2 separate regions of the Homo sapiens genome follow, and region 2 is linked to region 1. A link means that fine-mapping ties the variant in region 1 to the expression of a gene that starts in the linked region. Tissue or cell type: lung. Region 1 holds a variant in brackets; the other region holds the start of a gene. All regions are shown on one strand. Distances are between the middles of the regions.

Region 1 (5,757 bases):
TGTCACTGGAGCAAGAGGATTTATACTTTAGTGCCAGGTCTACAGCACATAGCTGGTGGACCTTGGGTAAATCACTTTTGTTACCCACCACACTAAAACAGACAACACACGTTTACTGACACCAACTTCTATTACTCGGTTATTTCTTGTCCCCTCAGAACTAGCACACGTAATTTTCACCATTTCCTTATTTTATTATGTATGTATTTATTTTTTCCTCCTTTATTCTAGGAAAGATTTGGGAAAACTTACAAAGGAGAAGAAGACAAAGAAAAAATAAGTTGAATAAAAATATATTACAGGGAAAATTAGTACCCTCAAATATGTGCCATAAGTTTCTCCCCGTTTATTGGAAATGAGCTGTTTGTTGGTCTCGGAGCTTTCTAGGAAGCTAATGAAGCAAATGAAGTCATGTAACCTGAAAGAAGAAAGCATCCCAATCATTCTGGGGATAAAATGAGCACTTCTTCCTCCTTCTAATAACTGATAGAGATTTCTTTCTTGGATACTAATAAAAGGACATTGAGAGATGTGGGAATCTGCATCCTCAACAACTTCACAAGAGTGAAGATGCCAGTCATTTCTTAAGGCCATTATTTGTATTATTCCTCAATGCAAGAGAAGGACACAGTGCAGTGTCCGTAAATTCAAGACACCCTGCTTCTACTGAGGGATCAGAACAATGTGCTACAAGTATGCATCTGTTTGTTTTAGGCTTGACCTGTTGATAAACTTGATGTTAGTCAGACCAGCTGTTCTCACGGTGTAGTAGTCCTGAACTTGCAATATCACTATCACCTGGGAACTTATTAGATATACACATTTTTTTAGCTCAACTCAGGCCTATAGAATCAGAAACTCTGGGAATGGAGCCAGGGAATCTGTATTTTAACAAGCTCTGATGCAATTTGAGGACCAGTGTGATATAGAGAGGAATGAGTAGATCGCATGTCCTTTTGACAATTACAGGAACGCTATTTTTTTTTTTTTTTTTTTTTTTTTTTTTGCCTTTGGTCCTTGGATTAGAGTCAGGCAGCAAGTAGTTGGAAGATACATTGTCTTGGCAGGAGCCTGGAGGACAAATATTTATATTATCAATTTAAAGCAGATCCACATACTTTCCAAACCCACTCAGAGGAGAGTCTGGTTGACATCCTTCCTCTTCTGCATGCTAAGTCTCCCCAGATGGTTTTTGATCTCCCTGCTCTATACAGTGGGGTGCTGGGGCAGGCCAACAGTGGGGCCAAGTGTGTCCTCTGAAGATACCTTCCTTACTGTGTGCATTTATTCATGGCTTTTCTTTAAATTGTTCATGTGTGTTTTGCAAGTATGTTCATTCTTCCTCCCAAGATGGAGTCCTTCCAAGCTGTAAAATTATATGACTATTCTATTAGGTAGGAATAGAGTTTTAAAAGCCCTAAAGCTGAAATAAACTATAGAGATAGTATAATACAACCTCCTCATCTTACAGATCATAAGTGAGTGGAGAGGGGAGCGATTTCTCTCTAGGTATTGCTTAACTCAGGCCCTGGCACACAACAGGTTCTCAATGACTCTTAGTTGAATCTGTTTCTTGACTGTATATAGCGTTTTCATAATTCTCACATGGCTTTTAACATTTTATCTCCATAAATATTCATGAGTATAATTATCCCTATTTTCAAATCAAGGAACTCAAACTTGAGTGGCTAAGTGTTTATCAAAATTGTACAGATTTTAATATTACAAATCCAGAACTGGAACTCAGGCCTCTTAAGTTTAGGCCCATTCACCTTTCTCTTCTGCCATGATGACTAGAAGTCTGTGGATCACACACTAAGTCCCCCAAAGACATGCAAACATATATCAAATTGAAAGACTAAGTTTTGTGTAATAGTGGCCATGGCCAACCTCAAAGGCGAGGGTTTCGGCTTTTTCAGCGCCTCAGGGCCGCATCTCTGAGTAAGAACTGGCCAAGTGACCTTACCCAAACTCTACCCGCTGCAGAGCAAGTGCAGGATGTGGCGGTTTTTACCAGACTCCTCTGAGAGGTATAGCTACTGGACTGTCAAAGTCAGCTAAACACAAACAGAAGATAAAGGCATTTCTGTACCTTCATGTTTCTACATATGTAAACATATTTTGGCACACATATAAATCTGTATAAATATGTTGAAACTACAATATCATTTCTGTTATAAGCAAAGTGATTTGATCTCCTCAGCAAAGTTTATCTAAACAAATGCTGCAAAAGCTAGAGGAAAGAGAATGAGGAACTGTCAGAGGAAATGCAAATTTTTTTTTCACTCAAGACCACAAACAAACTCAGGAGTTCCTCTGTAGCGTAAGTCTTAAATTCAGGATCTGCATCTGACTAAATGTCATGCTTTGTTTTCTGTTTTTTGCTTTTTGGGTTTTTCATTGTTTTCGTTTTGCTGTGACCTTCCCAAAGATCACAAGGCTACTGAAAGCCCGTAAGGTAAGTTGTTGAAAATTTTTTAAATGAGCTCCTTCCTCCAGGCAGACATAGCACTACGCCAGGGAGCATAGCTTCAGGAGTAAAGCAGGGGCTGGGGTTCTGCTCCTACTCACCCCTCAGCTGGGCACCTTTGTGCAGGATATACAACCAACTCAACTGTACATGGTGGCCCTATCTTTACGTGCAAACCCTGTGGGTATTATAGCTGTGGGGCCATTCAATTCAATACAGTCAGTGTCTGGTGGTGCATCTCATGTATAGACATAAACAGAAGCCTTGCTTTCTGCTAAGCCAAATCACCTTTAAATCAAATAGATATTGGTAGCCAAGAGTAACATACAAAACTATGTTTGCAGAACTGTTCCACATACTGCAATGGAAGATCACTTCTTCCAACCCTCTTATTTTATAGGATATCTCACTGCATAAATCCAGACTGATACTAATAATACTTATGATAATACGAGTAATAGCTAAATAGTAAAAATAGTTAATTCTTACTATATGCCAGGCATCATTCTAAATATACACCTCATAACACCTCTTTAAGGTATATTACTATTATCTCCATTGTACAAATGCAGAACTTCTCTGACACACAAGGGAGTTAAGTAACCTGCTCAAGATCACAGCTAATACAAGTGGTAAAACTGGGGTTCCAATCCCCGAGTCCAGTTCCAGAGTCTGTGCTAATTAACCACTGTGACACTTTCCTAAAATGCTGGAAACATGCAGAATGCCAGGATAAGTAGGCGTGCAGTCGAATGGAAGTCCTGCAAGGGATTTTACTCTATCATATGGCTCACTCTTTTCCTCCCTCCTGTAGAACCGGCCCCAGTC[T/C]CTTGCCTGCCTCAGCATCCCCACGCCGAGGGGTTGCCTCCATCCCGAGTTGCAGCAAGAGTTGAATCCGAATCACCCCTCCTTGCTATCTGGGAAGTGTATTTTCTGGTTTCAAGTGGGACAGAAAACGGTTGTGAGACTGCATATTGGTGGCAGGGAACCCGCCAATGGGTCTCACGAAAAGCCTGGGCTGTTTGCAGACCCCGCTCCACCTGGCCCCTCTGTCCTCCTCTCCCCACCGCAAGGAGCCGCCGGCCTCTGGAGTTAGCCAGGTCCGCATAAGCCTGCTGGGGCGACGCTGCTCCGGGCTGCCTCCGGGTGGGCCGGCCCCATTACCGCTGATGCGGGACACTAGCCCAGCAGAGACCCCATTAACCGCGCCGCCCCACCGCTCGGTGGCATCTGCGAATTACTCCGTCACTCGGCGGCGATCGCAAGACCCCAAGTCTTCTCATTTCCTCGTAATGCTCTAATGGTCTGCTTCCGTCGCCATGACAACACGAACACAGCTCCGCCGGGCCCCTCCGACTGCCTGAGGTGTGAGCAGAAGGCGCGTGTGTGCCTCTCAGGGCCCCTATGCGGTCTGCCCCGTTAGCGTTGCTGCGATGTCTCCGCCACTGCTCTTCGCGGTGGGCAAACCCGGGCGCCTGAAAGGGAGGAGCGGTGACCCGAGGTGGCCAAGGCCAAGCTGACACTTCCCATCTGGCAGCTGGGGACAGCTTCCCCTCCCTCCTGCTCTCCTTCCTCCCTCCTCTCTTCTCCCTCAGCTCTGCAAATTGGTGACCCCCCGCAACCCGGGGCCCATAGAGGCTGGAATGGAGTCTGGAGACCGCAGCTCCACCCTGCCTCTCCGTCACTGAACGTGTGACCTTGGGGAAGCCCTTTAGCTCCTGGAGAGCCGGAGCCACCTAAGAGTGCATTCGATTTAAGGACGCATCTCCTCTCTGCTCAACAAAGAGGGAGGGGTTCCTGCACACGTTGGATTTCTGCCCTCATGGAGCTTACAGATTCATTAGAGCATTCCAGAAAATGTGAAGACTTGGGGAACTTGAGATTCTAGAGTGGCAGAGTGATTTACATGCCACTGAGCGGCTGGGTGCCTGACCTAATGGAGTCTTACCTAGACCTTGGCTCTTTGAGTGCCTTCCCACAACACTTGACTAAAGTCTCTGGAGCAGGGTCAGATGTGACCCATATTCTGTCCTTCTAGAAACTAACTGCAGAGTGCATACTTCTCCTAAATGTACCTCTATTCATTTGGTTCTCCAGTTCTAGACACTCATAACCTTTTAGAATTTGGATTCTCACAGTCACCATGCCATTTCACGCATGCCTTCTGTTTATACAGCATACTGTACATTCCATAAGCATGTATTCATGCCCACGTCCAAGGCTTTGGTAACTAAAACATGCTTGCTGAAAACTATAACTGTATTGCCTGAATTCCTGCAGCATTTAATATTCCTTTTGTTTGTGTCCCATGGAAAATAGCACCTCTAATCTTGGTGAGTTGATTTGTTATTATGTTTTCAATGATATAACTAATGAAGTGATCTTGATCAAGTCATTTAACCTGTATGGCCTTTAGTTTTGGTAAATGCTCTAAAAATAATCGTTAAACTTAACTGAAATAGAGAATTGGACTAAATGAGGTCTACAGTTGAATCACCGGTGGGAAAACACCTCGCATTTGCATGGTGATCTTTACTTCCTGAGGGAAGTTCATACACTGATTTCTGGAGACTGTTACTGTTGTTCTTGAGTACACATCCTGTTTGACTAATGCAAGGACGGTCCCTTGCCTTACTGCCTTATATTGTTCTCGGCATCCTCAGGAACATGCCCTGTGTGTAGTGGCCTGAAAGAATTATTTGTTGATGATAAAGGTGAGGTCCAGGAAAGATAATCTAAGATTATCTGATTTCTTGTGAACTTCTTGAGAAGCTGGATTTAAAGACCCTAGCTGGTGCAGAGGTCTGTTCAATTTTCACTAACCCTTCTCTGTTCTCTAGTGATGACAGAGAACAATGGAAATGAGCCTAGAGGAATAATGTTACTGCAGAAAAGTCAGTAGTTTCCATTTTTATTAAAATTCATTCTTCCCTAACTGCCATCTGTTTTTCTTTTGGGCCTGGCCAAATGCTTGGAGGTGAATGGATCAATGCTAATTTACATGACTGGTCCAGCTAACTAGGGCCCCCATGCCCCCACATTTCCAATACACCCCTCAGCAAGGTTTTTACCAGAATATTCCAAACCAATAGGCCTCTTCCTCCATCTAAAACCATCAGCAGGTATAGACAAGCCCCAGTGTCTGAAAAGTAAAGGAAGGCCTCTGAAAATTCAGCTCTTGGGTACAATTTGAACTTTTAGCACAACCAAGTGCAGCTGGAAATCTTGAGACTAAACTAGCATTCATGCATTCAGCAATATTCACTGAATGCTCCCTCTATCCACAG
Region 2 (5,757 bases), 140 kb before region 1:
CATATCCAAAATCAAATTCATCCATCAATCTCACTTCTCTTCTACTCTTCCCAAACCCATCCATATTCCAAAGCTTCACATCTTTCTGTCTACAATGATCTTCTTTCTACTCTCCCTCTAATCAGTGTCTCACTATTCATTAAGAAAACTCGGATCTCATGTTTCTATTTATAAAATGTCTAGGTGCAATGGAGCAGTCTCCTGAACCTACATTCTTTACGGTCCAGATGAATGGCCACTTCCCAGGTGAAGTCTCCCATAACCCCTCCTAGGCAGAAGGACCTTTCCTTCCTCTGGGCTCCCAGAGCACTTAATCTGAAACCTTCTTTTAGCCGTTTCTACATTCATCTTCATTTCAAATCCAAGTCTCTGATGTCTCCGTACTTCTGAAATATTCCTACTTCCCAATACATTTAATAATTGTACATCCACCAGAAAAAAAATACTAGCACCCTAAATTTCCCCTTTTTTTGAACTGACTAGTGCCTTTTTTATGGGTTTCTCATCTAATAGTAACAGATCATACTTCCAGCTTCCTGGTAGATGCTACACCCTCACTCGGTTATGTTAGCTTCTATGTTATTGAAACACTCTATTAAATGGTGTGGGCACTTCTAAGTGATGAGAGAAGATATCATCATGCTTCACAAAGGGGATGACTTTAGAGTCAAATAGATGTGCATTTGATTTGGGTTCTATACTTATTAGATGTGTGAACTTGAGCAAGCCACTTAACTTTTATGAGCCTCAGATTCCCCATTTGTCAGTGGAAGGGTAATACTTTCTTTGAAAGTTTCCTACTATGCTCTTTCCCCTTTCCCTCCTCCATGAGTTTGCACATGCTATGCCTTCAGCTTAATTCTCTCACCCACTTTTTGCTGGGAAGACTTCTGATTATTCAGGCCTCAGCTTAGATGCTGCATACCTTAGGAATTCCCCTAGCCCTCAAAGATCAAGTTAGTTGTGTTTTCCATGTGCTCACTGCCCAAATTCTTGGCACTTAGTCCTTGAATTGTAATCATTTGTGTCTTGCTCTTTCTTTCCCCCTTTGAGGAACTGGTAACTCTGTTGAGGACAGGGACCATGATTTGTTAATTGTCACCTACCATCTTTGTCCTACTTCATCCACTTTTCACCCAAAAAAAAAAAAAAAGCCAGAAAAAGTAAGCCACCTCAGCTAAGGAATTCATAATTCTGAGATTCTGAAGAAAATGTCAATTTCTCACTGAGCGTTTATTACCTGAATGCATTACAACGTTTCAGCTCTTCAAATTGCTGGCTCCGTTCTTGCACTGTGTTAGGCAGTGGGCAATAATTTGCTTTTGGTACAGAAATTGAGTGATGTGTCTTCTGAACTGATGTTAAAACCCAATAGTTTCCAATTTTATAAGATTTAAAGCCAGTTTTGTATATGTGAAACTACCCAAATCACCAAGAGAATTAATTTTCTTAGGAGATTCTCATCGGTAATAGCAATTTCCACAGTTTGTTTGGCACCCCTAGTGGTAAATATTTTATTTTAAAAACTCAGCCACATATAAATTTATTGTAACAATCTAGGCACTTTGTCATAAATAAAAGCAATGATAACTGTGGTGCTATCTTCTATTTACTTCAAATGTCACTCCTGAAGTGTACATTTATAGAACATGGTAATTCAATGAGGAAGCTCCAGGGTCAGATGGCTCAGGTTCCATTACCATCCCTGACACTCACTAGTTGTGTGATCTTTGGAAAGTTATTTCATTCCTCTGTTACTCAGTTCCCAGTCTATAGAGTAGCAATAATAGCCTCTGCATTATAGAGTTATTGTATGGCTTAAATGAGCTAATACATGTAAGGGCTTATAACAGTGCCTAGCACCTGGTATAAACACTCTATAAATGTTAGCTATTGTTATTTGCCAGGAGTGAATCAAATATAAGAAGAGTGTTTGTATAAGATTACCTTTAAATTCCCTGCCAATCCTGAGGTTCTATGTTTCTATATCATTCCAGTCCCTTAGCATTCCTATTCAGTAGGGAGGGGGCAGCATTATCCACATTTTACAAACAGTAAAATTGAGCCATAGAGAAGCAAAATGTCCAGTAAGCAAGTGGCAGTCTGAAACCAGGACTCAGATTTTTAGATGTAAGTATTAGGACTCTTTCCGGGAGGCTGTGTGGCTGTACATTTAAAAGAGAATGTTAGATATCCCTTATGAGCCTATGAGCAGTGACCCCTTGATGCCCCTTCTCTGCCAAGGTTCTCCATAAATGTGCATCAAGGTCACTTCTGTCTCTACTTCTGAGATGATCTCAGGCCATATCTTTTCAGATATTTTTCTTACTAGCTTTACAAAAAAGCTATATTGTGGAGTTGGATGAAGGGCCAGCTCCCTGTATCCTCTGCCTCTTTAGGCATTCCCATGCCTGGGTTGTGCTACGTATACACATACTTCACCTGGCTGCAGACGCTGACTTTTTGGAGGGTTCCTTCTGCTGAGCCCGGACCTCAAACCACTTGAGAACCCCACAACTGACCTTATTCCAAAACATTCTATCCCAACCCATTCCACCCTGGATTTCTCCTTCAATCATGGGCAAAGGATCTGCAAAAGCTTCCATCCTCTCCCTTTCTCTTCTTATCTGGGTTGGTCAGAGGGAAGCCTCTATCTTCTTCAGGACCCTGCCTATGCAGAGGCAGCTCCAAGAGTTGGGTGCGGGGAGTATTTCTGTGCCTGAATCTGGACTGTTCAAGAGGATTTAGGATGCTTTTCTTTTCTGTCCACTAGGGGGCTGCTTGTAGGGGGATGGAAAAAACGGAGGCTTAAAAAAATCATGCTGCTGAAATTTCAGCAAGAGGGGAAAAGAGAGAGCGCGTGAGAGAGAGAGAGAGAGAGAGAGAGAGAGAGAGAGAGAGAGAGAGACAGCAAAGCAGTCCCAGGCTTCCTCCTCTCTTTCACGTCAGAGGCAGGAACCGACTGTGCTAAGGCTGTTGGCTCAACACCCAGAGGAGACGGGCAGACCCAGGGAGAGTGAGAGAAGGGGGTCCTCTCTGACCCAAGGAATTACCACTAGTGGAGTGAAGCCACCTGACTTTTTGATCTTATTTTGGTTGCCTCCTCATTCTCCTTCCACCCGTAGCCCTGACAGCTTGGGTTTCATTTCTTTCGTGGAGCCTTGTCTCTTCCTCCCAGAATAGGAGGAAGGGAAGAGAAGGGAAAGAGGAGGGCTCTCTAGGTGAGCGCATCAGCTGGCTCCAGCCTGAGCAAGCAAGAATTTTCTTCCCAGGAAGCTCCTCTCGCTCCCCGGCCGCCCACCCCCAGCCTGGGTAAGTCCAGAGCACTCGCTCCTTTGATTTTCTGGCTAACGTGATTTCAGCACCAAGGAGAGCTATGAGATGCATTTTGGTTCCTGTGTATCTGTGTGTTCTGCAAGGCATTTGGCACTAGGGTTACATCTATTTCTCTGCTGCCAGTAGAGTCGGGTTCTGCGTAGGGAAAAGAAAGGCGCAAAACTATGTTTACCGAATTAAAGGGGGATTGGACTCTGGCCTTGCGGGTGTGTGTGTGTGTGTGTGTGTGTGTGTGTGTACTGTTGCATAAGACAGGTGAGGTCTGAGCTAAATTGCGGGTGGTTTCTGCGTGTCTCCATGTAAGGCTGTTCTTTTTGTCTGTAGATAAGCGAGATGGTTTGGGGAATTAGTCGTGCACCTTCTTTAACTCTCTCCCGACAAGCCATCCATGGTGGGAAAGAGTTGCAAAGGAAGCCTGGGGGGTTGGGAGTGGAGGTAGAGTTAAAAGTTACGCACCTCTGAGAGAGCTTTAAAGAGGTGCTTTGTAAAATGTCAGTTTCCTAGTATTCTCTGGGCTCTTGCTGTGGAGAGAGCCCAACCTGACCTTTTACTTTCTCTTCTGGTGTGAACCCATGGTAAGTGGGCAGGTGCAACAGGTGAAGCTCAGGCTGGGGCGGCTTTGGGGGGTTGAGGTCCCTTCTGACTTCATGGTGGTAGGAAAGTGCTAGTGTCTTGAGCTTTGCAGAGACTGGCTGGTGTGGGTTATATTACATTTGCAAGGAGGCAGGAGGTACCCTCCACTTTTATGCCATCTTTGGCTATGGGTGGTTGGAAAGAAGACAAAGTCTGTTCTGCCCTGTTTTCTGGGGCATTTGGCAGTGAAAAACAACTAAGAATAAAGGTTTGTCTCTATATGTCTAGGGTGAGCAGAAACAAAATTAGACTTGTCCCAGACTCAGGAGGGCTTGAAGTGGTACTCTGTTCTCCTCCAGCACTGAGAGGCTCTGCAAACAGGAGCTCATTATTACTTCTTTCTTCACTGCTGCTACTTTTTGCAAGGTATTACTCTGTCTCTCCTGCTTTCTGCCTCTCTGAAGTATGTTCAGTCAATTCCCTGCATCTGCTTTGGTATTGTCTTGGAGACACTATAGGCCTGCCCCTGCCCCATTCAGTCCTGGCCACACCTACCTGGTTGAGTCATTCAACAAGTGGTGTTGAGGATTTCCTTCAATCATTCAAGTCTCCGTGGAGCCAGCATCCTACAGGGAACTTGAAAGAGATGTGGCTTCTTGTAGGAGCAAGTCTTCCCTTGATTTAACCCCTAACTGTTTATGGTTCTGGTCACTTTCTTCAAGTGTGTTGAGACAGGGGAGATACATAGGCAAGGTGGGGTGGTTTCACTCTTTCCAACCCCAAATGGACCCTAGAATGGTGATTCTTTGTCTTATTTTTAATTCAGCACAATGGGCCCCTTCTCCAAGATGAAGAAAATACTCTCTGCCTCTGGCTGGGGAGCCTTCTGGGTGAGAGACACAGTTCTGAGTGAAATGGCACCACTTTTCTTTTTTACTATGCTTGGCATTGGATCCAGAAATCTTAGCATCTCCCTAGAGTGGCAGGAAGTAGAATGCATCCAGGAAGACAGTGAAGTCAGAGGTTGTAAGGGTAGGGAAGAAAGACTGAAATAGACAAATGCAGAGCATCAGAAACCAACACTGACTCATTCAGTATTTTAACATTCCAAACCTCCTGTCCTTGAAATCTTCCAGTTTGAACAAGTGAGTGGATAGATTTCTGCATGACACATCACTGAGGATTTTTAAAAAATTATGCCCTTGCAGTGGACCCTGTCCAAAACCACAGTTTATTACTGAAGTCACCATACTTAGTAGTCATTATCTCATTAATGCCCTTAAATTTTCTCTGAAAAAAAAGTGCTCAGTGACATTATTGGACCCATTTTATAAATGGAGAGACACAGACGCTTAAAGTGGGAAGCCAGAGGATAGCGAAAGCAGAAATAGAACTTCTAGCCTGCTAATATTCCCTCACCTAGGAAATGCAGTAATGCTCATGTGCAGGAGAGAAGGAATGGATTGCTCCCCATTGGATAGACTTGCAGCCAAAGCCTTTTAGGGAACTCAGTGTGGAGCAATGGCCTCTCTCTGGTGAAGAATGAGAATCAGCCAGAAGTCTCAAGGTGCTGCTGGCCTTTACTTCTCAGCTAAGAAGATGGCCAAGAGCCAGGTAAAGAGCTCTCTGGGCTTACTGCAAAGAGAGAACCCTGGGCTGGTGGCATCTAGGCTGAACTGATGTCGTGCACCTGATTGTCACATCACCATGCCCCAGAAATCCCAGCTGAAGCCACCCTATCTGGGGCATGTTGCCATGGATGTCTTGGCTTTGGGTGTTTGGTGACTGTTCTCTCTAAGAACGTTTTTCTGGGACCACCTTCATTGAGTCCTCTGTGGCTCTGAATGT

What was found. PIP is the estimated chance that this variant, and not a neighbour inherited with it, causes the effect.
Region 2: TNR starts here. The variant in region 1 is fine-mapped to the expression of TNR in lung (TOPMed, PIP above 0.99).

Annotation. Positions count from the first base shown.
Region 1 is chr1:175,597,453-175,603,209 of GRCh38, reverse strand. All of the region lies in intron 1 of TNR (tenascin R), which reads left to right. Among named protein-coding and RNA genes, the nearest start is that of TNR, 140 kb to the left of the region's middle. RefSeq lists an enhancer at 2,481-2,550. The variant T/C (reference allele first, on the strand shown) is at 3,299.
Region 2 is chr1:175,740,781-175,746,537 of GRCh38, reverse strand. It overlaps TNR (tenascin R), which reads left to right and starts at 2,943. Exons shown (of 23, transcript NM_003285.3): 1 at 2,943-3,312.